Regions from separate parts of the Homo sapiens genome. Here region 1 is linked to region 2. The links come from fine-mapping of genetic effects on gene expression. A gene starts in region 2. The other region holds a variant in brackets. All regions are shown on one strand. Distances are between the middles of the regions.

Region 1 (12,920 bases), 44 kb before region 2:
GAACATGGGTCACTCACCCCAAAGGACACACCAGGGCAAGCACCAACCCAAAGCAGGGGCTCCATGGCCCTCAGTGCATTAAGCATGAATTATTTAAATTCCCTTAGTTTGGAAGGGATGATGCAGATGCCTGGAAGCATCTAGTGCCAAAATTAACGTCCTGGAGAAACGCAGTTTGAGTTTTCTTCATGAGGAGCAGGGCACCATACAAGGGGTACATCCTGAGAATGTTGTCCATACCTTGAGAAGTGCCATGGTTCTAAAACCATCTAGTGAGCTTACTGATCCTTAAGTTCAGGAGAAAAGCATACCTGTAGTAGTTGCAGGTTGCAGCATAAAGGTGCCCTACTGCTTGGGCTAGGTGATCTAACATGGTGCTGGAAGTAATTGTGATGCATGAAGATGCCACATGACACCTCTGGAAAATCCAAACATAAAACCCTAGGTTTCTACTGCAAGGCACGATCTATGACAGAACTATTCTGCATTTGAGAAATAGGCCATGACTTAAAACTATTAGACCCCAGGGGAGACTGAGTCCTGAACATTTCGCACCAAGTAATATCCCAAACTGGAGCTCCCCATCATAAGCTAGGTTTATACCAGATCTAAATCCTAAGGTTAGGTAGGACAGTAACAACTCACTTTTCCCCTCCCAGATTTGTTCTTCTATTGTATCCTCTATTAGTGGCACTACCACACAGCAGTGCCCATACCAGAAGCCTGGAAGCTGATCATGTCTATTACTACCCACTCTTATGACACCTATTCCAATCCCCAAAGTCAGTTTTCCTACTTGAGATGTTGCTATGTTGAACATACCAGTCTGACCATGTTACTGTCTTGTATAACACTACGCAGTGTCTTCCCTGACCCATTAGGTAAGTGCTGACACTCTTGTAAGAATCTGCTCCCCTCCCTCAGCTTGGTACTGGCAAAACCAAGCTGCAAGTTTTCTTAAGCTTTGTTCCATGTATACGGACGATGCTTTTTCTAGACTTCCCCTTTCACAGAGCAGCAGTAAGGTTTACTTTATGCTTTCATTCCCTGACCCTACCTCCCATTACCAACTTTGGGAACACCTTTAGGGTTAACCAGATTGTTATTGCCACACTGAAGTTACTCAGATACAGTTCTACCTTCCGGTGCTCCCAGAAGCAGGGGTTCTCATGTCAAGACCTTGAGATATAGCTGGAGGACCTGGTTAGCTGAGCAGACAAGGGTTCTTAGCAAGTCTCCCTCTGCAGACATCCATGTTAATATACACTGAACTAAAGAATTCGTGAACCATCGGGCATAGCAACTGAGTTGACATTGCCATCTAGACACCCAGAGCATTATGGCCACAAGTTAAAGTACACACACACAGGAGTTACAACTATCTTCCATTTGAGAAATAGATTGCAGCTTTAAATTATACCCTAGTACAGACTGAGGAAATGGAGTTCTTGCAGATGTTTGGCTGACAGTTGGTCCACTAGGTCCGAAGACCCACCCAGAAATATTTCCCCTGAGTACACAATTGAAATTGATGTGCTTGTCATTTGAATAAATCCCTACGTTGGGTCCCTAGCCATGTGAAGTAACAGCATCACAGCAGGGCCAGTTAGAAACTTCTGAAACTGTCCCTACCCCAGCCAAGATATTAAGTCACAAGTATTGCACCCCTGTAGGGGATGGTCAACATTAGTGCCATGCTTAAGTATCAAGCAAATATGGTTGGTGGTCCTTATCTGTTCAATTCTGCATTCTAGCCCATGACGAAATTAGATACTAGAGGATAATTAAAGCACTACAAGTTCAACCAAGTGTCTGGCCTGGTTCCCAACGGGTCGGGTTCCACAAGCAGTATACCTGGTCAGCTACTTTGTATCACAAAGGGCCCAAGATGAGAATGCACATATACATAGGTGGTTCAATGGCATCACTTTCCAGTCAGCAGCCTGGAACAAAGGACTGAACGGTCAGAGACAAGATTTGGGTAGAGGAATGTGGATGGACATAGTAAGGCTATGTATGAAGTGTGGAGCTGTGTGTCTCACATTAACACCCACCAGGAAGGGTCCATCTTGGAAAAGGTACTGAACTTACTTGACCTGGCTGAGACTATTGCAGACCCATATTGCAGGGCAGGGGCTCTACCTGTTCTTCCCTTCCCTGGTTCCTTGCACAGGTGTTACACCTGTAAGACCTGAAGATTCTCCCTTGCTGCTCCTATTCCAACTCCCTTCCACCCCCCACCCCAAGTATTACCCCCACTGAGTCTCTTGCACTTAACTACAAAGGATCCAAACTGACACCATAGAAGTTGTTCTTCCTACCCCTGCTAGTATTGATTGCCTTTAAATGCATTCCCCAGGCCTACATTCAGCACTCCCCTAACCACAGGCCGAGATGCAGAATCTAATCCAAGGCAGACTCATCCATATACCTTGGAAACCCCCCCCAAAATTATGCTCAGGGTCAGAATTGACAAAGTTGGCCAAAATTCCCTAGATCCTACTGGTAAAGGGTTGCCTTCTATTTAAGATTGGAGCTGAGCAAGAATCCAGCCACAGCCCCATAGTCAAATTCACAAAGCTTCCTGAAATTTACCTGTGTTTAAGAGCTCCTCTAACCCTGTGCTGGGAAGTTCCTCTCACCCCTCAAAATGTTTGCTACTTCTTCCGGGAAAGCAGTGAGAGACTTCCAACTATCTGTTATCTTGCCACTCTAATTTCTCCTCCCCAGACTTCACCACAGAGGTATTGCTAGAAGCAGTTCATTTCTTCCCTTAGTGTAACCCACCCAATCTGACATTCCCACCAAACGAAATGAAGACCTTAGAGAAAGTCTTTCCTTCAAGCAATCCCTAGTTTGGACTCAGTACATCTAGACAAATGACTTCAGTATTGTATGGGAAAGCTGTGAACACCATCTGCAATTCTCACTGTGAAACCTGAAGATGCTTAATGTCCCAGGACCTTCTCATTAGACCAAAATTATAGACACTCATCTGTCTCAGGAAGTCAGGACCATTGTGTGCCAAACTAGCATGTGTGGGAGGAGAGGCTTACCTAGAGATTCTATCAAACAGCTTCTGAGACCCCACTGCCCAAGACACTCACTTCCATACGGAGCAGGACCTGGCCGAGTTCCACGTTTGTCTTGCCCTGATAGTGGTACTCCTCTCCGTGGCGGGGTAGGGGAGGAGGGGGCGGCTGGGGGCGGGGGGAGTCTGATCCTGTTGCTCCTAATGCCACACTTTCAGGGAACCTAGAAAGCCTTTGAAGACCCTCAGACTGGCCTGTACCTTTTACATGCCAGTGTGGAGCCCTGGATATGAGGCCATCAGCAATATGCAGGTAGTGTGCCACAGCAAGACTGCCATAGAAATTCAGGGCTTAAGTGTCTGAGGTACCATTCACCTCACTTTCCCCATGGGGTTCTGAAAGTAATTGGGAACTACACCTGAAATCAAGATCAGACAAGCTTTGTTTCACTGAATCAGAGGACCAAAGCTGGAAGTGGGCCCCCGAACTAGGCTGAGCAAGTCTTCTACCATTGAGTAACGTAAGCCCACTCAGTGAGCAATCCTTCCATATACATTCATGAAGTAAAACAAGTACCATAAAACTCATGAGGGCAGTTCTCTCTAGAAGGGTTAACTACATATGTGCCATGAGTTGTTCCTAGTCTCATTAACCCATCCAGGTTCTTTTCCCTTGGGTAATATTGAAGAGATAGAGAAAAGCAGAGACTAGATAACTTAAGTGTTTCAAAAATAGAAGTTACATAACTTCACATGGTATAAATCAGTAGTTGATATTGCACATCTACAAGACATACCTTTTGAATTAGAACATTGGATTTTGCTTTCCATCAAAAGATTTATGTATAGGAAAAATTCACATCTGGAATCCATTTGCTTTTCAGGAAGATAACTGTAGCCTTCTAAGATAAGCCATTGTAACTAGATGGTGATGAAGGATTAGAGATGAGTTTAAAATAAAGCATTACTTCATTTTAAAAGTTAAATATACCCCAATTCTGCTACAATAGCTTTAAATTCTTCTGTTCTGGTCAACATACTTCTGAGGGATGTGAGATTGGCCTCTGCTGTGAAAGCTATTAAAACAAAGCCTTTTGGTTGTTTTCCTCTGAGTAGCATTGCTATCACTCCAACCTAGATTCAGTAGGTTAAACAAGCTTATTTGTCACATGAAGAACTCAGTACATTAAGCACTATATGCACAATAGTCATTCTGTACAAGAACATTAACATGTACCTCAGTTACCTCTAGATAACTATCATTGTACATTTGTAGTCGTCACCTGTCACCTGTATGTTCTTCCAACGAACCATGTATTTCTTCCCCTTTGTTTGCTAGGGTGTGGGTTTAACAAAATTTGGCATTTTCTATTTATTGTGTTTTACAAAGTATTGGTCCATGGCAGATCAGAACCAAATGGGTCCTTTAGGTAGTCTCAAAAGCTAGTCGGGGTCATTTTAACTTTAACTGTAGTTGAGACCTATTAACTCACTAGAAGATCAGCCATTTCTAGGCACTAGGCTAAGGTCCTAAGCCTTCCATCCAAGCACAAGAAGGTGTTTAGGGAAACAGGTTTCTCAAAACCAGCTCAAGATTTGCAGCTATGTTTATTCTCATATACCTTGAGCAAATGAGAACAAAGCAATTAGCCTTGTGTGGAAGGAATGGAGGGATTGTGTTGATAATGCCAACCCTAGAAGCCATCTTAGGAGAAGAGGCAAGAGGCCCAAACAATGAAGCAAGGGTGAAGCAAAAGCTGCCAGAGAGGACCTAACGGGGCCTGCCCTCATGTTTGGAGCCTTGGACTGTTTCAGGAATTAGACACACGGGGTCTTGCCACTTTGAAGCATGGGGCACAACCAGTTTTAAACTGCCATCAACAGGGGGCGCTTAGTAACCATAAAAGCTTGACTGAGTTGCAAAGCCATGACTTTGCTAACTCTTGAAAAGTGAGCTGGACGTAAGGATGCTCCCCGTTTGGAGTGAATGCTTTACCACAGCAGCATAGACACCGTTGAAACATTTACTCAGAGTCGAGTAGAGTAAGCTACTTGGTCTCAATTTCATACTGTCTTCAAGAGCACAGGTGAGCCATGGCTATCTGCTATGCTGGTTAGACATGCAGTCATGTAAGCTTTTCTTAGGACCAGTTCAGCATAGTTGTGGAACTTTGTCACATTGGAAGGCCTCATGACCCCAGTTTGAGGGGTTTCTCCCATCGAGACCCATTATCCCAAGGGCTCTCTCCCAGAGTCCCTGCTGCTGCTAGGGACACAGTCACAGGACTTAGCCTCTAGCAATCAGAGACACCAGGACTATTTCAGAAAGGAACAAGGAGTCAGTAGGTGGAACCATTTTAGAGTAGGGCAGCTACTTAATTTGGTGGGTTTAATGTGGAGGAATTGGTGAGCATATGAGACCAGAGCAAATCAATCAACTCCTGCTACACTGAGTTCTGGACATTATCTCATGTTTTACTCACTCGTTTATAACCTGAAAGCAAGGAAAAACTTGTTACAAGAATAAAACAAAAGCTACATGTTTAGAAGGGCCCAAGTTTACCAAGATTGCCCAACAACCCTGTTTTTCTAGCTTCTCTCCCCTCTGCGAAATTTGGGAGTTGGAAAGATACATCAGAAGTCAGTGATAAGTTTAGAGACATGGTTCTACCATAGTCTAACTCAGCCAAGCCTTATCTTTCTAGTATTAGGACTAAGACATTTGGGATTCACGAAGGGTTGAGATTTACCAGAAAAAAAGCCATGGGGTTAAATAAATGAAAGATACTATAACAAGGAAATAAAGTCAATAAAGGCAACAGCTGGAATGAGAAAGTCTGTGGGTTGGAGATTTGTGTCAAGAGAAGTAGTCTTAACAGGCCTGAAGTGGAATGACTTGAACAAGAGACTTGAACAAGCTGGAGAGGAAGACGGGGTGAGTGAGACAAAACTGGGTTGTTTAGGACAAAGTACAAGGTGTTAACCACCTATTCATGAGGAATTCCAGTAGGAAGCAGTTGACAGGAAGGTGAGTCAGGGGATGGGGAAGGTGTTTTCACAACCATACTAACACCTCTTCTTGCAGAACTAGTTATCTGGCTGTGGACCCAAACCTGGGGTTCAGGTCCCAATACACTTTGTATAAGGAAGACCTTGTGCAGGTTTAGCTTCAGATTATCATATAGGTGATAACCACCAAGGACAGAGTAGTTGAGATGTCATATTCCTGGCAGATCCGGCCCATAAATGCTTTCTCAGGTATGTCAGGTTAAATAGAAACTGATTATGGTAACACCTCCAAATAAGATTTCTATCAGTTCTGGTTTGTCAGGTGACATACTAATTGCCTCACTAATCAGACAAGTATTGTTACGCTAGTCTAGATTTTTACTGTTAACAGGAAGGTATATGAATACATTGCTTGTATAAAACAAGCAGTCCTTAACTGGTTTTATTAAGGCACTCCCGAGAGATGTTAGGTGCAGTTAAGCCACAGGCCAAGAGAAAAGGGAGAAAAAAAGAACAGCAAGATATGCTGTAAATTATGACAGATTTACTCCACCCTTTTTATGTCTATTTGGTCATTTAGTCATAGACAATCAAGTACATGACTAAGCTCAGGACATTTAACCCATTACACCCTGCCACACCAAAAGCTTTTCATAGAAGCCCCATGTTACCCAC[CACG/G]TTGACATTTGAGTCAGTGTACTCAAGAGCCAGGTAAGCACAGGGAAACAATCATTTCCTGTAGCATGAGTGGTCTTAAGACATCTAGCTTCCTGTTGAGCAAGGTAAGAATGACATCCACCCGACTATTTGATTTTAGAGGTTTAGCTTATTGATCCGAGTTATACCTGACCCTTAACCATAAAGCATTAAAGTGAGACGTTTGTTCTCAAGGCAAGCTATAGCAAGTCACTGTAAGAGGAGTAGTATATGGAAAGACTTCAAAACAACCTAAAGTGAACAATTTCCTAGGTTTGAGAGATTGTGAGGGTGACACTGAGCCTCAGTTTTTCTCTATAAAATAAAACCCTGAGGTAGTTACTCCTATAAGTGAACCAATATGAGAGCATTCAGAACAATGGCATGAAGTCAAGTCTGGGTGACTCTTGTACATACTATTCCTTGTCCACATTCATAGGTATTTTGCAAGTTGAGTCATGACTGGTCTGTTCATAGTCACCATGGTCCTATACATTCATGAATCAGTATGTATATGGTCTTAAATGCCTGCGACATTAAGAGGAAATCAGCTCACTACCCAACAACCTTAAAGCAAAGCAGTAAGAATTAAGGATAGGGAAATAGAACCTTAAAAGATGACAAGAGGTGGGTGGGAAGTGGTATAAGATTAGGCAAAAGTAACTAGTATGAACATGAAAATAGAACCAGAATGCTGAGAGAACCCAAAGAGATGGCTATATATGGAACCAGAGTGTTCTTAAAAATCCACCCCAAATTGACCAGAAGCATGGTAACTGGAAGTGACGTGAAACCACCTAGTAGAAATTTGAGCAGAAACTGCACAGCAGTGGGGAATTCACTATGAAGTATACCAATAAGTGTGGCTTCCTCAACCTGTAGAGGCTGTGTTGGTTCAAAACAATGTTGCATAGGTTTGGGGATACCCATGGCATTGTTTATAGTTCTACTTCCAAGTTCATCTGGGAATGTGTCTCATCTATTGATCTGACAAGTCTTTCTCAACCCTGTGAGAGGTATAGAAATCTTTGAAAGACATGCTAAAGATACCCAGCTCCTACAAATGGTGGGGGTGGGTGGAGAATAGAATAGCAAGCAACAGCTAGCATTTGTGAGAACTCTGATTTCTTATGAGCTAACAGATCTATTAGTTCAAATTGTACATGTCCCCATATAACTAGGGACATGCCTACTACCAGTAAAGTTGACAAAATGCAGTCAATCCACTTAGTACCTGATCATAAGCAAAAAACTTTAAAATGCAATTCCACGTGTTGAAATTTAAGACATCAAGAAAGCCCCTCTGAATCATGGTTGTGACTGAGTATCTACTGGAAGAAGCTTCTATCACCAGGGAGGGTCTTTACCTATGCACTCAAATCCTATGGAGTCTTGGACAAAGCAAAATAGTCACTGAAATATTACACGGCAGGTGACAAACTGACAGCTGGGAGTTCAGCATGTTTCTCTCAGCCTAAGTCAAATGGACACCAGCGAGTTTTCCCGTGCATTGGGTCCTTTGCTGTTGCTAGGCTTTATTTCCGTCAAGACTGATTCATTATTCAAGGGCAGTTACAGGTGTATGTGTACAATAATTATCTTCCATTAGGTCACATGTCTGGCCAGTCTCAAGCTCATCTTTGGTCAAACTGTTCATGTCGCATTAGCTCAAGACCAGGATGGACATATGCAGACTCATCCTAGACAAGTGCTTTTTATGCTGGAGTAATAGCCAAAGTTTAGCTTGGGTGAAACATTGGATGCCTTTGCTGCTGAGTCGAGGGAATCACTGGTTTTTATTCTGAGACAAACTTTCCAAATACTCCTTGGTAAGTGAAATATGGGCAAGTTCTGCCTAAGAGAACAGTAACTAAGATCAAGTTGAGAAGACAGTTGTAGGAAGGACTGCTCCAATTACCATAAAGTGTTAGTTGCCTCCCCAACAGGCTAACTTGCTGGTAGAGGCTCACACAAGGTGAGGGAAACAACTCTTCCATCACACTCAAATCCAAGTGACAAGATAGCCAAGTCTGTTATACAAGCTAATTGGTTAAAGCAGAACACTTGCCAGAGGAGCTCAAGTATTTGGCTCACTTAAATGTCATACACAACAAAGCCAGACAGTGTTTGAGATTCTTCATTACCCTCAGTATCAGTCACAAATAATCTAGCATCATACAGAGAAAGCAGTGAGGGGAAGAGCACAGGAGCTTCCAGGTAATGGCCCTAGTTAACTCCGGGCCTCAAGTGGGTTCATAAACAAGTTGGTCCATGTTCTGGTTAGTATTTTTGTCAACTGCCCCCAAATCCAAGGGAACTGCTTCAGCACAGCCAATGCTACTGATTTGACAGCTTCCTACTTTCTAGATATGCCAAGGGGTTCTATTCTGAGAGAGCCAAGTTAAAAGTTCTTAAACATGGTGGCTGCTGCCTTTCTTCCCTAATTGCAGACACTGGCCTTGCAGCAGCCCAGCCCAGCTTCAGCCTGGGGCTGTCTTTCCTGCTCTTCAGCCTCCCCACAGCTCTGACACAGGTCAGAGGAATGGACACCCATCTACCTTCCTGTGATAACTCCACAAGACCAAAAACTTCCTTCTTGGCAAAAATCACATGCCTCCCGGATAAGCCATCCCAGCTGTCCTAAACCCCAATCCAACCCAAGTCAGTTTCCGTAGAAATAAGTGTTAAGCAGTTGTGTTGAAGACAAGAAGACTGCCCCCTCCTCTCTAGATGAGGTTTGATTAGGTTCAGGTGTTTACCACTGGTCCTTATAGGTAACACATCAACATCAAGTCCAAGTAAATTGAATAAGGTATATACTCCTGTTGGCTTAGAAAGCTAATATAGCACATCACTGAAAAGCACACTCCAGCCTGATTTAGGTATAATAGGAAGGGGAGTTGTGGGCGCTTGAGCTTTTGGGATAGGAATTGGGCACTACAGCATAGATGTTAAATGCTCTCAAGTACTTGATCTCTAGACACCTGTAACCTCTCAGTGTGTTGTCCAGGATCTAAAGAATACCAGTAACCCAAACTGAAAACTGGAAGATATTGAATGAGAGCTACTTGTATTCTTCCCATTTCCCGTGCTCAGGACAAATAAGTTACTAAAATGAGCTTTGGAATGGGTGCTTTAGATATAGATGGCATAGAAGATGCCAGGACAAAGCTTACCCACAATAATCAAAGTGATTGCTAGGGGTATGGAAAATGGTCATATTGCTGACAGAATGGTGTTTTACACAAAGGCAGTCATTCTGACAAAGTCCAAGTAATACAAGTGGTTCTAGCCTACTAGTTCCTGGAAGTTTCCAAGGATTTGCACTCAGACAGCAATACAGACACTACATTCTACCGTCATTTTAGATCAGCATTTCCCTAAAGCGGTAACAAATGAATTAAACAAAAACAAAAACTTAAAGTTATGTTTTATCCAGAGCTGTGCTCTCCAATATAACCACTATTCATTGAGCACTTGATAGGACCCATCTCAATTGATACACTAAGTTTAAAATGCATACCAGGCTCAGTACCAAGAATAAGCTGGGTTACATGTCAAAATAAGCATCTCTTGGGTTAAAGATATTCGTTTTTCTTTAATGGGACTGACTATATATGGCTTATACTTTTGGCTCGTGTGTCTCAGCACTGTTCTAGAGGCTCCTATAAATTCCCTCTAAAGAGGATGCACAGAGAACTTGATCTGGAAGCGTTCCAAACACATTTGCAGATAGGAGTTGAGAGCTCTTTAAAAAGAGGTGATTTCAGAACTAGACAAAATCACAAGACTGTTCTGTTTATATCACATCCCCTTCTATCTGGGAGTTCCTAACCCCAGTCCCAAAGACACATGGCACATTAGGTCCCTTTGACTGTCCTGTTGATCATGACGAATTTTTGCATCTCTACAAGTTCTCCAGACTGTTTCAGCAGTAAAATAGACCAGAAGTCATCCTGGGCTTTCCTAGGCTTCTTCCCCATCTCAACTTAGCCATGCTTCTACCAGGCCACCACATTAAGGAAGTAAGACCACATTGTCATCTACAGGGCTTACCTACTGAAGACAAGTTCCATCCCCCTCACTTTATGCTTCCTAGAGCGCCCAAACTTCTGTCACATAGTTGGGAAAGGTTATTCCAGATTAGACACCAGAATTTAGATACACAAAGGCACTGTAATGTAGCGTTTAGGCCAGAGCTGAAGTCTACTCCATTGAGAATTACTTCACAGGAAAAAACCCAGACTTGAAAGTCAGTTCCAATTCCCAGCCAGCACTCCCTCACCCATTTTCTATTGCCATTAAGTAACAAGCTACAGCTGGGTCTTCATGTTCCTTCAAGCTACGTTGTAAGTTCCTGGAGGGCAGGGACTCCCCTCTGGAGTGTGCTCAGTGTGCAAGGGTGTTAACTAATCTCTCCAGGCCAGTCAGACCAGTCCTGCACAAATGCTTCAACAGGCTCGTTTGCTACCAGCAGTTACTTGCTCCAGTCACCTGCCTCATGACCATTGCTAGGTAAAGCATTTCAGTTTGGGTGGCAGCCGGAGAAACCATTTAGCCCGAATAACCTCCAGCCACCGCTCTGCTCTCACTCAGGGGCTTTTTTAAAGAATCTATTCCCTGAGGAAAAAGATCCCAACCATTTGAAAGTCAGATGTCAGAGGGCCCGTTTGTAGGCACACTACAATTGCTTTATGGATCAGAGGATTCAGAAACAGTGAGGGCCCAGCTCCCTAGTGAGAGCACTTTCTCCAGCACCACCCCCAACTGAAGATCAGACCTACAGTACTGAAACTGATGTCATAGGAGCCGTGAGACCCAGAGTGTGAGCAGTAAGCTGAAATCTGCCACAGAAACAGGATTAAACCAAGATATGGCATCTCCCTATGGGTAGCCTGAGAATTGAGAAGTTAATCCTGTGACCACAGCTGCAAGCTTGAGGCACCTCCCTCATCAGGGACTGATTCGGAGAACTCTAGTGGGCAAGCACCTCAATAAGCAAAAGTATGTTTAGACCCCTCAGACTGTTCCAATGCCTCGGGGATTCTCTGGGCTCCTTGCGGCAGCAGGCCAGCAAGGGGTTCTGCTTACATGCTTCCTGCCACACCTAGAGCAGTCTTACTTTGCTAGATTATGTCAAGATTCTAAAGACTTAAAAGTTACTGGCCCAAATTAAACATGTAATCTGTGTAGATTGGGAGGAAGTGGGTCTTGATAAGTTACCTTTAACAAATCCCTCAAGAAATTAGTTTCTCCTAGAGTCAAGAGTTTCAGTACACCTGGTTCCAGTTTCTATCACTTAGTTCTCACCTTCGACCACCTGTAACTTCTCTCATCTGAATGGCTGACAATTAGGAAGAAAGTCGTCTTCAGCTAGGGACTGTTTTAGACAGGTTTGATGCCAAGAAGTGACATGGCTACCATCAGTTTCCTGGTAAAGAAGCCACTAGCCTCTGGCATCAAGCAGCTCTAGGTAGACACTAGACACTAAGCAGGAACCCCAAAAATAGGTTGAATCCGAAATGGTCTTGGCACAACTGAGGATTTTCAAAGTAATGCTATCCTAAGGGATAGTAAGGATTTGAGCTACTAAAAAGCTGGGTTCTCAGGCAAGCTTTAAGAGACATCAGGAGTTCAGATTGGAGTGAGGCCAGTTGCAAGACAGACAAACACGCATCAGGCCAAAGCTCAGAAGTACATAAGCAGCCTTAGGAATGGCGGGAGTGCCATTGACAAATCCTGCACTACTCCACATCTTGTTCTAAAAGGAAGTTGATATTTGAGATGTTTCAGCCCCTTCTACCTTGCTCTCCAGCCATAACTTTAAACTTGTCTCCTAAGCCATGTGAGTTTTTCTAGAACTATGTGGCATGCCCCAGAAGCCTATGCAATAACACCTACATATAGACATCAGTTCCATAGGACTCACCTGCAGTTGAAACTATAGTTAATTGGGTCGGTAGTAGATATTTTGCTCTGCCTGAGGTGGGAAAGATGAACTTTCCAGTGTCTTTACTGTTAGCCTAGGTGAAAAGTCCTGAAGACCCAGTGATCTATCAGTATTAGTTTGGATTTTTGGTTTTTTTCTTTGAGACGGAGTTTTGCTCTTGTCACCCAGGCTGGAGTGCAATGGTGCAATCTCGGCCCATTGCAACCTCTGTCTCCCAGGTTCAAGAGATGATTC
Region 2 (12,920 bases):
ATTCAGGAGAAGAATACTCGGCTAGGCATTTAGAAACCAACTCTCTCCAGTAGAAGAACTCAGTGTCATTAATCTGAAAAAAAAATATTTTAAGAGGTTACGGCAATGTCTCCCAAATCTTGCTGCACCTTGGAATCACTAGGTGAGCTATGAAAAATATATATATATAGATGCCTGGCTCCCACTACCCGCTTCCACCCCTGGTATTCTGATTTAATTGACAATGAGTGCAACATGGGCATCAAGAGTTTTCTAAGTTCCCTAGGTGATTGTAATGTGCAGCCAAACTTTCAAAATTTGGGAACCACTGGTTTAGGAGAAGAGCACCGTAAGTATAAAACTACATAGGATTCAATACACAGAAAGCTTTGCCTATTCTAAGAAAACACTGACCTAAAAACACTCTGGGTCTGTTAATAAATCAGCTATCAAGTATAGTCCTTAGTCTCAATGCAAAGGAATTTAACATTCCTTTTGTTACAGAAACCAATTTGGGTTCCTGCAACAAGGCATTGTTTGGATTGCTGGTAATACACACTTATAACACCAGATACAAAACTAAAGAAGTTAGTGATATGAGAGAACAGGAATTTCCCAAAAAGGACATAGTTCCGCCACCACTGGGCAGTGCTCCAGTTTATTTCTTTTTTGTTTTTCTTTTTACGTATTTTTTTCCCTCCTCCTTCGGAATGCCTTCAGTTTATTTCAACGAATCAATTTTCACTGAAGATGGTTCCAGCTATCACTATCAATAAAAAGTTCAGATAAAAACTAATAAAATCATAACTAAAGCAAAAAGTTATCTGTTACAAACAAAATGCTTCACATGCACATATTTTCACCAGAAAACAGAAGATCTATTTTCTTGGCTTCCCATTTTCACCTAATGTAGCTACATCCTAACCCACTTGTAATCTGGTTTCTACCACTTCCTTCTCACTGCTCTACTGACATTACCTCTGACACACCCAATGACCTTCAATTTTCATTATATTGGATCTCTTATAAAAATTCAATACTCCTGACCACCTCCTTAAAAACCTCCTTCCAGTCTGACAGTGCTTCTACTTGTGGGGATGTACCTTTCTTCACTTGGCTCCTAATGTTGGGGGGAAAGGCCAACGCTGAAAACCCCAGAGCTTCAACTGACCCCTACAAAAAGGATTCCACAGCTTCTTACCGTTTCAACTACTGCTTCTTCATGAGAAATTCCAAACCTCAATCTCTAACTATAGTTTATCTTCTTATTCCAAAACGCCAAACACCTACTAGACACCCACCTGTGTACACAAGCATCTAAAATCATATTGCTCTCATCACAAATTAACTTCTCCCAAATTTCCTGCCAATTATGCTAATATTATATCCACCATTAGGTACAAATCTTGGTCATTCAAGACTCCTTGCCTCATTTCCATGCTTGGCTTCCAAAACCACTGTTTGAGTTGGACAGCCTTACTCCTGCTTGTGACTACCACCTAGACATTGTACCTGTAAGTCTACCCTAAAATGACTTTTATATCTGTCTAGTCCACCAATTTCTTGGCCGTTAAGCCTTCGCTGAAACTTTCACTGTCAAAGATTCTTTTGCTCCAAACAGGCTCCCAGTCATAGTGTTTCTCCTAGTCTGCCCTATTTCTTTGCTTAAAAAAAACCCAAAGTAAGCCGGGCACAGTGGCTCACGCCTGTAATCCCAGCACTTTGGGAGGCCAAGGCAGGTGGGATCACTTGAAGTCAGGAGTTCAAGACCGGCCTGGCCAACATGGCGAAACCCCATCTCTACCAAAAATATAAAAATTAGCCTGGCATGGTGGTGAGCACCTGTAGCCCCAGCTACTCGGGAGGTTGACGCAGGAGAATCACTTGAACCCGAGAGGCTGAGGTTGCGGTGAGCCAAGATCATGCCACTGCACTCTAGCTTGGGCAACAGAGCAAGACTGTCTCAAAAAAAAAAAAAAAAAAAAAAAAAATCCCAAAGTACTCTCTATATTCACTATTACCTGGCACCAAGACACAATAACAAATGACAGAACACACCACTTCATGTTAAGTTCCTCATTTCCCCAACTAGACTGAGAGTTTAAGAAAAAGTATTGTGCTTTTGTTTTATATCTCTTTGTGATGGTAAGACTTACTTTTACTTAGCTGGCCTAAAGGATTTGAAAAGACATTCGGGTTTAAAACATCAACATTGCTGGTGTTAATTGATGCTGCTGCTAATGGGATGACAGTTCAGTCCTACAGGTGTGATGGGATCCCATCCTATCCCATTAGTGTTTGTTCTGAGTCTACTACCTAGTATGCATTTCAGAACAATGCATATGTGGCAATGTAACAGCTGTACTATCATATGGCATGATTACTACAGAAGGGGCACCTATATGCAGAAAGAAGCTGAGCTAAGTGACCAGGTTCCCTTCCGGATTAATACTGTCTGGGTCAAAGCTGCATTTTGAGAACTTTAACACTAGAGATATAAGAAAAAAAACAAGTGTAAAAGTTAAGAGTCCCATAAAGTATTACTTAATGTTTAAGTCACCACAGAAAAAAATAAACATCAGGAAAAAAATTTGCCTTAAAGAATAATGACTGTAATTACCTTGGAATGTTTTTTAACTAGCAAGAGAATTTCCAGTAATTCAACAGATTTCAAAGTTTCCACTTCCAAATTGAGAAGGCACAAGGCTAATACAGATGGCTGTAAGAAAAAAGAAAAAAAAGAAAAATATTTTTTAAAAATTCAAAATACAAACTGTGAGATATATACATAAGCAAGGAATCGACTTACTTTTGCTTTTGAAAAGATGAGTCGGCAGTTGCAAGCTTTCAGCTGAGCTTCTAGTTTATCAAGGCTCAGTATTTCTTTCCTATACAATGCAAAGAACAAAGATTTATTAAACTTCCAAAGATTTAAATGATTTTAAATGATTTTAAATATTTGCCAGGGCCAGACGCGGTGTCTCACGCCTGTAATCCCACCACTTTGGAAGGCAGAAGCAGGTGGATCACCTAAGGTCAGGAGTTCGAGACCAGCCTGACCAACATGGAAAAACCCTGTCTCTACTAAAAATATAAAATTAGCCAGGTGTGGTGGCGCACGCCTGTAATCCCAGCTACTTGGGAGGCTGACGCAGGAGAATCGCTTGAACCCGGGAAGTGGAGGTTGCAGTGAGCCGAGATCACGCCATTGCACTCCAGCCTGGGCAACAAGAGCGAAATTCCTTCTCCAAAAAAAAAAAAAAAAAAAGATTTACCAATAAAGTCAAAGTTGAAAGTTTGAAGAAGGTAAAAATATAAATTTCATTGCCATTCCAATTATTTACTGTTAGCTATAGCAATGTTCAAAGTACAAAATGTATCTTTAATCCCACTGACCTTTCTGAAGTATGACAAAGTATAATAGTATGGTATAAGTGCAAAAAGTTTAAGGCAGTAGTAGCTTCCAATTCATAGTGCAATTTTTCTGAAATTATTTTTTCCATCCGTTTTATGTCAGAAGCAGTACATTTACACTGACTAATCCGGATCACATCATGAGTGGATGGAATATTGCAGTCTTCTTCAACTATTCTAGCAGCCAGCAAAAAAGAACAGACTCCAATGCAAGACAAATGTTTAGGTTTCACCTGAGAAAAAAACAAGAGGCTTCTTTTAACAACTGTCACTTTGACTTAGCAGATACTTAGAATATTGTAATGATGCTCCTATTCTTAAGACAGAACACAATCAAGTTGTTTCTCTTATATGTACTGGCTCTTTACCCACAATTATACACATTTTCACATTTTAGACGTTCTCGACCTCCCCCCCCCCCCAAAAAAAAAGGCAGCAGGGAACAGTGGCTCATGCCTGTAATCCCAGGACTTTGGGAGGCTGAGGTGGGAGGACTGCTTGAGGCCAGGAGTTTGAGAACACTCTGGCCAACATAGCAAGACTATTCTGGCCAACACAGCAAGCCTCCATCTCTATTTAAAAAAAAAAAAAAAAGTTTTTTGAACCTTTAAATTATGTAAATTCAAATGCAGGTACAAAAATTTCCATGCAGGTTCAAAAGCTAGATTCCTAGCACTAAAGTATAATTTGTATTTCAGACTTATGAAATTCATAATATAATCTCTCCCAAAATAAATTAAGCTTTTTAACACCAAAAAAAAATGTACTGGGATATTAAAATATTTTATACTTATCTTTTTACATAAAAATCTTTAAGAGTCATTCCATATTTCAATGTAATTTTGCCCAAGAGAAATATCACGAGTTGTGCAGAGTGGGACATATGTAAAAGCTGCCATGGACAGATGGCGGCCCTTTTCTTTTCAGTGCCCTGAGAACTGACCCAGCAGCTGACAGCAATCCTACTGGCAGAAGATTCCCCACATTTTTCTAGCCATTGCTGGTGACTGTTAATAAAACCATGGCTCCCTGCTTTGAAGAGACTTCTAGGGAAGGCAGCCGGTCATATTTAATAAACTGTTATACTTCATTTGTCATGCTTCAGTATTTTAAAAATCTGGCTTCAAGAGAAGCATGATGGCAGATGAAATCTTATATTGAGGACTATAAATATATGGCAAATACCTAAAAAATAGTAGTCTCTCTTTTGTCACATATTCAAGAGAAAGTACTTAAGAGGTAAAACCTAAGACACAACAGAAAAACCTAAGATACAACAATACAATTAATCTTGTAGTCTTATTCTGGCACTAACGATCACAATTCTGATTATAAATTTTTATGTACAGTGGACGTTATTATACCCATTCGATAAATATTTCTTGAACCCTGTGTGCTAGGCACTGGGCATAGAAAAAGGAAGACATATTTATAAAAATGATGAAATACCTTCATAAGAGCCAAGAACCTGTCCAAAATATTGACAGCCAGGACAAAAGTTTCAGTGCAAGATCCAAAAAAGTTGGCTAAACTCCTTAAATCTTCAACTTTGGCATTTCTCAATCCTGGACACAAAGTGTTATCATTCTGCAATAAAAACCAAGAACCAAGGTTTACAATTTTCTTAGAACCAGATGAAAAACACATACAGGTCCAAAGAATAAGGTTAATTTTTTCCCAAGAATAAGGTTAATTTTTTTCCCTCAATCTTCAAGAATATAGGTGGAAAGAGTGGTATCGCTTAACTAAAGCTATACACTTTATCATCTGTAAGACGTAAATCACTGCTTCTTAAAAATACGCATCATAAAAGAGCTTCAGCAATTCAATATAAGGTGAACTGTTGCAAGATTTCAGAGAGTTATAGCAAATATAATTCAATTCCCTTGGAATGGAGAGAAAGGGTTCTTTTGTTTGCTTTTCTAAAGTCATTTAAGATTCTACTATAAATATGTATTTCACAGGCAGAGGGTGTTTGCACAAATGAACTACTCAATTCACCCGGGGTCTCCCATCCTGAAGCTGCAGGCTGGAGTATGGGGGGCAGCGAGGAGGGTGCCACATTAAAAACAACAACAAAAAACCCCACTTCTCTAAAGTATCACTCTCATTCTTGCTAAGAAACAAAAGCATTAACCTGTAATAAGGTTTATCTTGGTACTCCAGAAAGAACAACTTTTAAGAAATTTTGCAGGCTTTAGTCATGATTCAACGGGGGCGGGGGGGTTACCTCCTCCAAGCCCCATCAGCTGCTTGAGCAAGTTATCTTTTCTGCCAACTTACCTCCGGGGTAGCCTCAATCAAACTCAGCCCTTTTTCTCGAGGTTGGAATCTCTCTTCTTGTTCCAGGTAGACGTTCAACAACCCGAGAAGTTGGACCCCTTCATGACCTGCCAAGTGCTCTGCCCCCAAATCCTTCATCTGCAGTAAAGACACCACACAGAGAATGTAATCTGGGGGTAAGAGGGGTGGGGAAGCGGGAGAAAGGGCTGAGGCCAGTACCTCCAGCAAGGGTCGCCCCAGCACACCCCGACAAGGAGCGGGTGAAGGGACCAGTCACGTCCGCCAGAGCCCCAGGGCAATCCCCACCACGGCCAGGGAGGTGTGGCAGGGGGAGGAGCCGTGGTCAGGTCCGCCGGCCAGCGCTGGGTAAGACCGGCCAGCCCTGGCCTCTTGGCGTTTCACAAACAGGAAACTGTCCGCGGGCGCCGGCGTCCCCTCGGTCTGCCCCACCTGAAGTCGCGCCAGGGAGGGCCTTCTGCCCAGGGGACTGCAGTGTGGCGAGCGACTGCAGCGGGTCCCGGGGATGGGGTGTTGCACAATAGGGGGGAGGGGAGGGAGAGTCTCGCGACTGAACAAAGAAGCGGAGGGAGGAGACTCCCGAGCCCCGCCCGCCCGGGGCGCCCAGCTGCAGAAGCCCCTCTCGGAGAGTCCCGCCCCCAGCTTTTCCCGTCCGCTGCTGCAGCGCCGATTCCGGACTTACCCGAGAGGCGGATACCCCCGTCCCAGGAGCCCTGGGGTGGCGCGGCACACCCGGCTACGGTCCGGGGAGAGAAGTCCAGTCCAGCCCGCCCGCCCCGCGCCCGTAGGGACAACACCCGTCCACCCACTGATGCCGGGGCCCCACAACTCTGCAGAGCCCCGGGGCTGTCAATTCGAGAAGCACCACGCCAGCAAGTCCCCGTGACAACACGAGCGGGGGCGGGGGGCACCGAGGCGGAGACTGCCCTTAACCTAGTCGCAACCTCCTTCCACCCCACGAGCATCTATCTGTCCATCGCGGGCGCCAGCTCCCCCCGGGGCTGGGGCTGAGGGCAGCACCCTGGTCGCTCCAGCGGATGAGGAGCAGGCAGCACCGAGGCACTCGCATGGTACCAACCTCCTCAAAGCCCACAGTCCCCACCACGAACAAAGAAACCCACGGCGGCCCTGGGCGGGTCCACTCACCGTGCCGGAGACGCGCCTCCACCCGCCCGCGGCCTCGCGGTCCGCACGGACTGGGCGCAGCGGGGGCTTCCAAACCTGTCTCGCAGGTCGGGGACCCACCGCCTCAGCGGTGCCCCCGGTCCGGCATCCGACCCTTCCTCCCAGGCACCGCCGCCTCGGCCTCACAGCCCCGGCTCCATCCCGCTCCCCGCGCGCCCACCCTCCGCCGCGGCGCAACGCCGGCCGCGGAAGACCAGCCCACCGCCGCACCCCCGCCGCCTCAGCGGAAACCTCCCCGAGCCCCTTGTTTTTGTTAAGAGTTTCGACGCCCCCAAGGGGGCGGGGCACGTGACTCCCCGCGGAGGGATCCTGCACTTCCTCCACGGACTTTAAAAAAGAGTCCCGCCCCTAAGCTGCCGTCTCGAGCCTCTCTCGCGGCCTCCCTAGCTCTCCTTGGCTTTGCCGAGCCAGTCCTCCCGCCTGGCGCTAGGGCGGAGAGCGGAATCTGGGCGTCGGGCTTATTCCGCGATTGATCTGCGTTGGGGAACGGGGGAAGACAGAGGGGCGGAAGGAGATCGTTTCTGGTCTCATTACGCCTTTTAAAGGTCCCCGATTTGTTTTGTTTTCGCTGTTTTGAAAAGTCCGCCCAAAGTAGCCGGCTCTCTGATTGGATGCGGGTGGGGCGATGGGCATGCTGAGGACCTGATTCACCCTCGAATCTGGATTGGCTAACTTATCAGTCTTGGAGCCCTCTGATTGGCTTTCTCCGTAGCCTGAGCCTCTCTCTGCCTTGGGGCCTTAGCAACTCCAGGGTCTGGATTGCGCATGCCTGGGTGTGCAGCGGAGAAGGTATTCAGTTACCTGCCCTGCGGGGCTGTGCCTTCTCGCCTGGCTGCCTCCGCCTTTCTTGGGGGAATGTCACGCTCGCGGCGCTTCTCCTAACAGCTAACCTTTGTGACAGCCTTTTCAGCCACGGGAGAGTTTTCTACATTCCTTCTTTATTTTGTCTTGGCGTTCCATTTTGCAATAACCCACCAAATTATTATAACATTGTCGGGGCGTTTACTAAAATATTCAATAAATGCTACAAGTTTGGGTATTTGCTTTAAAATTTTACAGTCCAAGAGAAAAAAAAATGGAGAAGAGAGGTGAAATAAGATAGGCAAAAAGTTGAGGGTCGAAGCTGGGTGATGGGTACTCGAGGCTGCATTACAGTATTCTTTCTAGTTCTGTGTCTTGGAATTTTTCCATAATTTAAAAAAATTCAGGAGGGACTGAAGGAGGGGCTTTTCAATAAAAACTTAGCACGCTGATGAGGGTACGTAAACATCTAATAATTACGGCGTACCTCCAGAGGTTGTAGTGCTGTTGTTTTAATGAAGACTCCCAGAGCTTCTTGGTCCTTGGTAACCCATAAATTATCATTTATTGTTCATTATAATTAGCGTTGTTATTATAGGCGACACGTCTCCCAGGACGGGACAAAAAGCAAACAAACCAGGTGCCTTAGGCCAGAGACACTTTCACACGGAATATCAATGGGGCATGTGGTTGACTGCCCTGGAACATTTATTTGTTTACTCTCTCCCTCCTAAATTAGAAAATACCATATTCGTGAGTTCTAATCTACATAATCAGATAGTCCCTGGGAAGAGATTTCTCCTTTCTGTTCTTCTATGTGTTTTCTGTGAATTATTTTGTTACTTGTGAAATATGGGAAGGCACACAACATAGCTTTGGCAGCGCTCTTCTTTGCGGAGCAGCTAAGGAATTTTAAAACTAGGTCCCTTTGCATATTAGCTCGGACTAAACACAGGCATCTGTTTGGAGCACAGAGCAACTGGGGGAAGGCAGCCCAAAAAGCTAACACTTATTTCAGAGAGGTGTGAGCTTGGTGAGGGTTTTGGAAAATAAGATAAAATTAGCACACCAGTTTTAAATGATTTACAGGCTACATAATTTTATCCAATGCTTGTTTTATCTTTTAAACATTAAGTGATAACTTTTATTTGACATAATCATCTTGCTGGAAATCTATGCTGATAAACATAATAGGAGCATGAAACTAACTTAGAGACTAGAGCTAAGATTAAAATTACAGAGATGACAGCTCATTGTACAGAGCATCAATAGGCTGAGTGGACAGGGCCCACAGACAGAAAGCAGCTCGACCAACTATCCACCATCAGAGAAATGAAGAGTTTGTGATCAAAGCATGAAGGAGACTGGGGATGTTTTTTTCAAGTAAGAAGGCAAAGGTAAAAAAGGAACATACGTTATTTTATAAGTGATGTGAAAGAGGAAATGCAAATTTATGTGGTAGAAGACTTTAAAAATAACAGACTATATAAAACAAAAAGGAAAAGATTTAGAAATTGTCCTTTGCTTAGGCTACATAATTTTATCCAATGCTTATCTGATCTTTTAAACATAAATAAGTGATAACTTTTATTTGACATAATCATCTTGCTGCTTAGCACTAAATGATATGAAGCTATACTAAATGTGTACTCTATATTTCATAACTGGTATTTTATGTGTCCTTTTACAGACAGCCTCTTGAATGATGTGAACAGTGATGGCTTTCTCTGAGAGTAAGACAAGAAAGCTTTGTAAATGGCGTTGAATTTCCTGCTCTTGGCAGGCCCTGCTCAGCACAGAAGAAAAGACTGATCAAGTTGTCCAAGATGGAGCCCTTTATCCACGTTAGTCCACTTATCTCTTTAAGATTAAAGGAAAGCAATCATTAAAAATACAGATCCAGTAATTATTAATACAGCATCCTCTTTTTTAAACACCTCATTTTAAGAATGATGATATTCTTAGGAAATGGGCTGGGGGATTATGTAGGTTTTCTCTGTTTACTTTGCAGAATTTTTTGTTTGTTAATATATCTTTTAAAAAAAAATTCTCCTCATTCTATTTGTCCTTATCACATTGGCTTACCTTGCCGGAGCTGAAAGTGTTATTTATGAAAAAGACATTATTCCCCTTAGGCTAATCAGGCTTTACCCATTAGCCTTTCCTGAGCTTTCTGGAAGGCAAATTTCCTGTATCATGCACACATACAAAATAAGGAAATCAGAAACTTGGCAGCCCCCAAGAACTTCCAGACAATTTAAGATACTTGGTTTTCTACAGCATGTGGTAGGGGTGCAGTGGGGTTGGGTGATACTGTCACCAATAACCCCATGAAAGCCTGATGTGCAGCCCATTGTCCTCAGTGACATGTGAGACTGAAACTAAAAGGTGCTCACAGAATGGGTAATAAGCAGGGAGTGCCCACACAGAAACACTGACTACATTCAGTGAATCCCTGACTCCTGACAAGTGTGCTGCAAACCTGCTCACACTTAAGCTTCTACCTTGAAAATAGGGCACTCTCATGGGACAGTTGCAGTGCTTCCCTAAATGACTTAGACTTCCCTGAACTTCATAAGGCATCAAAATTGCTACAATTTTCCAAATATCATCTTTCTCCTCAAAGATATGGTTTTTGACAATAAATCCTAGCTTTTTATTCAATCGAAATTTAGTGAATACACACTGAGTGCCAGGCATGCTACTAGGCACCAGGAATACAAAAATACATAAATAAAACAAGGCCCCAGCATATACCCTGGTATGTCTGAGGTGTAGGGCAAAAGCACTGGCCATGGATCAAACTGGCTTTGTGTCTCAGCTTTCCTACTCATTAGAAATGGTGCCTTGAATACCCTGAATAATTCCCATGGTCTTGAGCCTCAGCTTTCTAAACTGAGGAAAACAAAAAGCCAGAGGTAGTTGTGTCTGCTTCATATGTGATGACTGAATACAAACATTTGTGAAAGCAACTAGCTATATATTTCTAGGCTGCACCATGTTGTGACTTCATGAAGGGAAAGGAAGGGATCATCCCTAACCTCATCAAAGAAGTCTGGTGGAAAGCAGCCCTGAAAGGAAAGAACCTGAGGATAAGGATACGTAAAGCTGACATGAGGCCATACTCCCCCTCCCCGTCTACTCACTATTGCTGGGTCCCTGCCTGGGCTGTTTTCTGTCATTAGGCTGAGCACAGTGGTTCATACCTGGAATCCCGGCACTTTGGGAGGCTGAGGTGGGAGGATCACTTGAGCCCAGGAGTTCAAGACCAGCCTGGGCAACATAGCGAGACTTCATCTCTACAAAAAATTTTAAAAATTATCTGGGCGTGGTGGCATGCACCCGTAGTCCCAGCTACATGTGAGCCTGAGACAAGAAGATTGCTTGAGCCTGGGAGGTCTATGCTACAGTGAGCCATGATCATGTCACTGCACTCTGGCCTGGGCAACAGAGCAAAACCCTGTCTCAAAAAAAAAAAAAAAAGTGGTTTGCAGCCCCAAACTTCCTGCTTAGATAAGTCTTGCTTCACAGAACCTGCAATGGAGACAGGAATGCCTCTCTGAGGAAGAGAAACAGGGAAGGTATAGCATAGTAGCATAGGGTGCTATCTTGAAGTAATGCAGATTTTTCAACCAAGAGCTCATTTTTAAATCAGAACCTGGAAGAATGAGATGATTTATATAGCAGATGATTAATCTCTGTCTTCAAGCAATCAGCAGAATAAGTCAGTGAAACATCTCATATATTCTCCTTTCTGATTTTCCCACAAACAAGACCATCTCAAATTTGAAATCAACATTTTACAATCCATTTACTATATATTTTGTTGCTTTTGTTGTTAATGCTAGAAGCATGCCCTGTTTTTTTGGAAGAGTGTTTATGCAAGGGTTGGCCATATTCATAAACATTCATAGTGTTTATCTACGTAGGGTTGGCTTTGGAATTGTGGAAATTATCCACACTGTAGACACCATCTGAATGACTACAGCAAGAGGACCAGTTTTTCCAGCCAGCCACTTTAGTCCCTCCCAGTTCTACTAGCCTGCAAGAGAGTAGCCTTGTAGGAACTATCTCTGCAACCTGAGAACTTGAGAACTAAATGCTCGGTTGACTCTGAAGCCCGACTCAGTACTTTGTTATCCAGTGCTCTCTCTTTTACACGAATAATCAACTGAAATAAATGAAGTAGCTTTGACATAATGTGAAAAGCCTGGCAAAGGAGAGTGAACTGAGAATTCGGCAATGCCTGAAATCAGAACTAATCATCTCAAAATCATCTTAAAATATATTTTAAGTGGCTCAGGCTACATTCTGGTACATTGTACATGATTCTTTATGTAACACATTTTTCTTTCATGGTTTGTTTCAAGAACCATGACCTAACTCAGAGATTTCCTGTCTTTCCTTGACATCACAGTGCTATATGAAGTTGACACTGTCAGCAAAGAGTAACTTAGGATACATCTGTTGAATGTATCATCTTATTTCCAAAAGAAGTTTTACTGTCTGTGAGAGTCATGATCTCTTTTTTTATCTCAAATGAAAAGGCAATTGATGTTTAAAGTGATATGGATAAGTGGTATAAGCTTAAAATTTGCTTCTGTTAACATTTTAAAGTGTTTTCAAAATGAAATTTTTTTTTTAACTTTAAAAAGAAAGACTGCTGTTGAAACCCTGTCTCTACTAAAAATACAAAAATTAGCTGGGTGTGGTGGCACACACCTGTAGTCCCAGCTACTTGGGAGGCTGAGACAGGAGAATCACTTGAACCTGGGAAGTGGAGGTTGCAGTGAGCCAAGATCACGCCACTGCACTCCAGCCTGGTGACAGAGCGAGACTCCGTCTCAGAAAAAAAGAAAGACTGCTTTATATCAAAGATCCTCAGGTCTGTTTAATTACGTATATTTTTATGTTTTCAACCACATTCTGAATAAGAAATTGTGGCTACATGCAGAAGTAGAACCAGATTTAAGGTAGTACATTTGAAGCTTTACTATTTGGAGGGGCTCTCTCTAGGAAAAAAAGAATTTACAAATACAAAATTAGATATGAAAGTGAATACTTATTTAAAACGAGACAATTCAAGACAAAGTGTAAATTTTAAACAGTTGTTACATACTGACTGCTTCGGCTATCTACTGCTGTACAATGAATCACCCAAAACTTAGTGACTCAAAACAACAATAATTTTATTATCATCACCCACAGGTCTGGGGCGTTGCTTGAACTCAGCTGGGCAG

Direction of the effects. Positions count from the first base shown, and alleles are read on the strand shown. Sizes are in standard deviations (SD) of each study's normalised expression.
In carriers of allele G in region 1, the expression in esophagus mucosa of the gene that starts at base 7,140 in region 2 tends to be higher than with CACG alone (small effect, 0.20 SD a copy in GTEx).

What was found.
Region 1: its variant is fine-mapped to the expression of CCNG2 in esophagus mucosa (GTEx, PIP above 0.99).

What each region holds. Positions count from the first base shown.
Region 1 is chr4:77,195,791-77,208,710 of GRCh38, reverse strand. No RefSeq gene overlaps it. Among named protein-coding and RNA genes, the nearest start is that of CCNG2, 45 kb to the right of the region's middle. The variant CACG/G (reference allele first, on the strand shown) is at 6,716.
Region 2 is chr4:77,151,427-77,164,346 of GRCh38, reverse strand. It overlaps CCNG2 (cyclin G2), which reads right to left and starts at 7,140. Exons shown (of 8, transcript NM_004354.3): 1 at 6,841-7,140; 2 at 5,677-5,814; 3 at 4,843-4,980; 4 at 3,376-3,626; 5 at 2,789-2,867; 6 at 2,600-2,698; 7 at 1-73. The coding sequence starts at 5,814. It overlaps LOC101928864 (a long non-coding RNA gene), which reads left to right and starts at 6,283. Exons shown (of 2, transcript XR_244659.5): 1 at 6,283-9,077; 2 at 9,371-9,593. RefSeq lists silencers at 6,832-6,941, 6,972-7,041, 7,462-7,581, 9,924-9,993 and an enhancer at 11,704-11,753.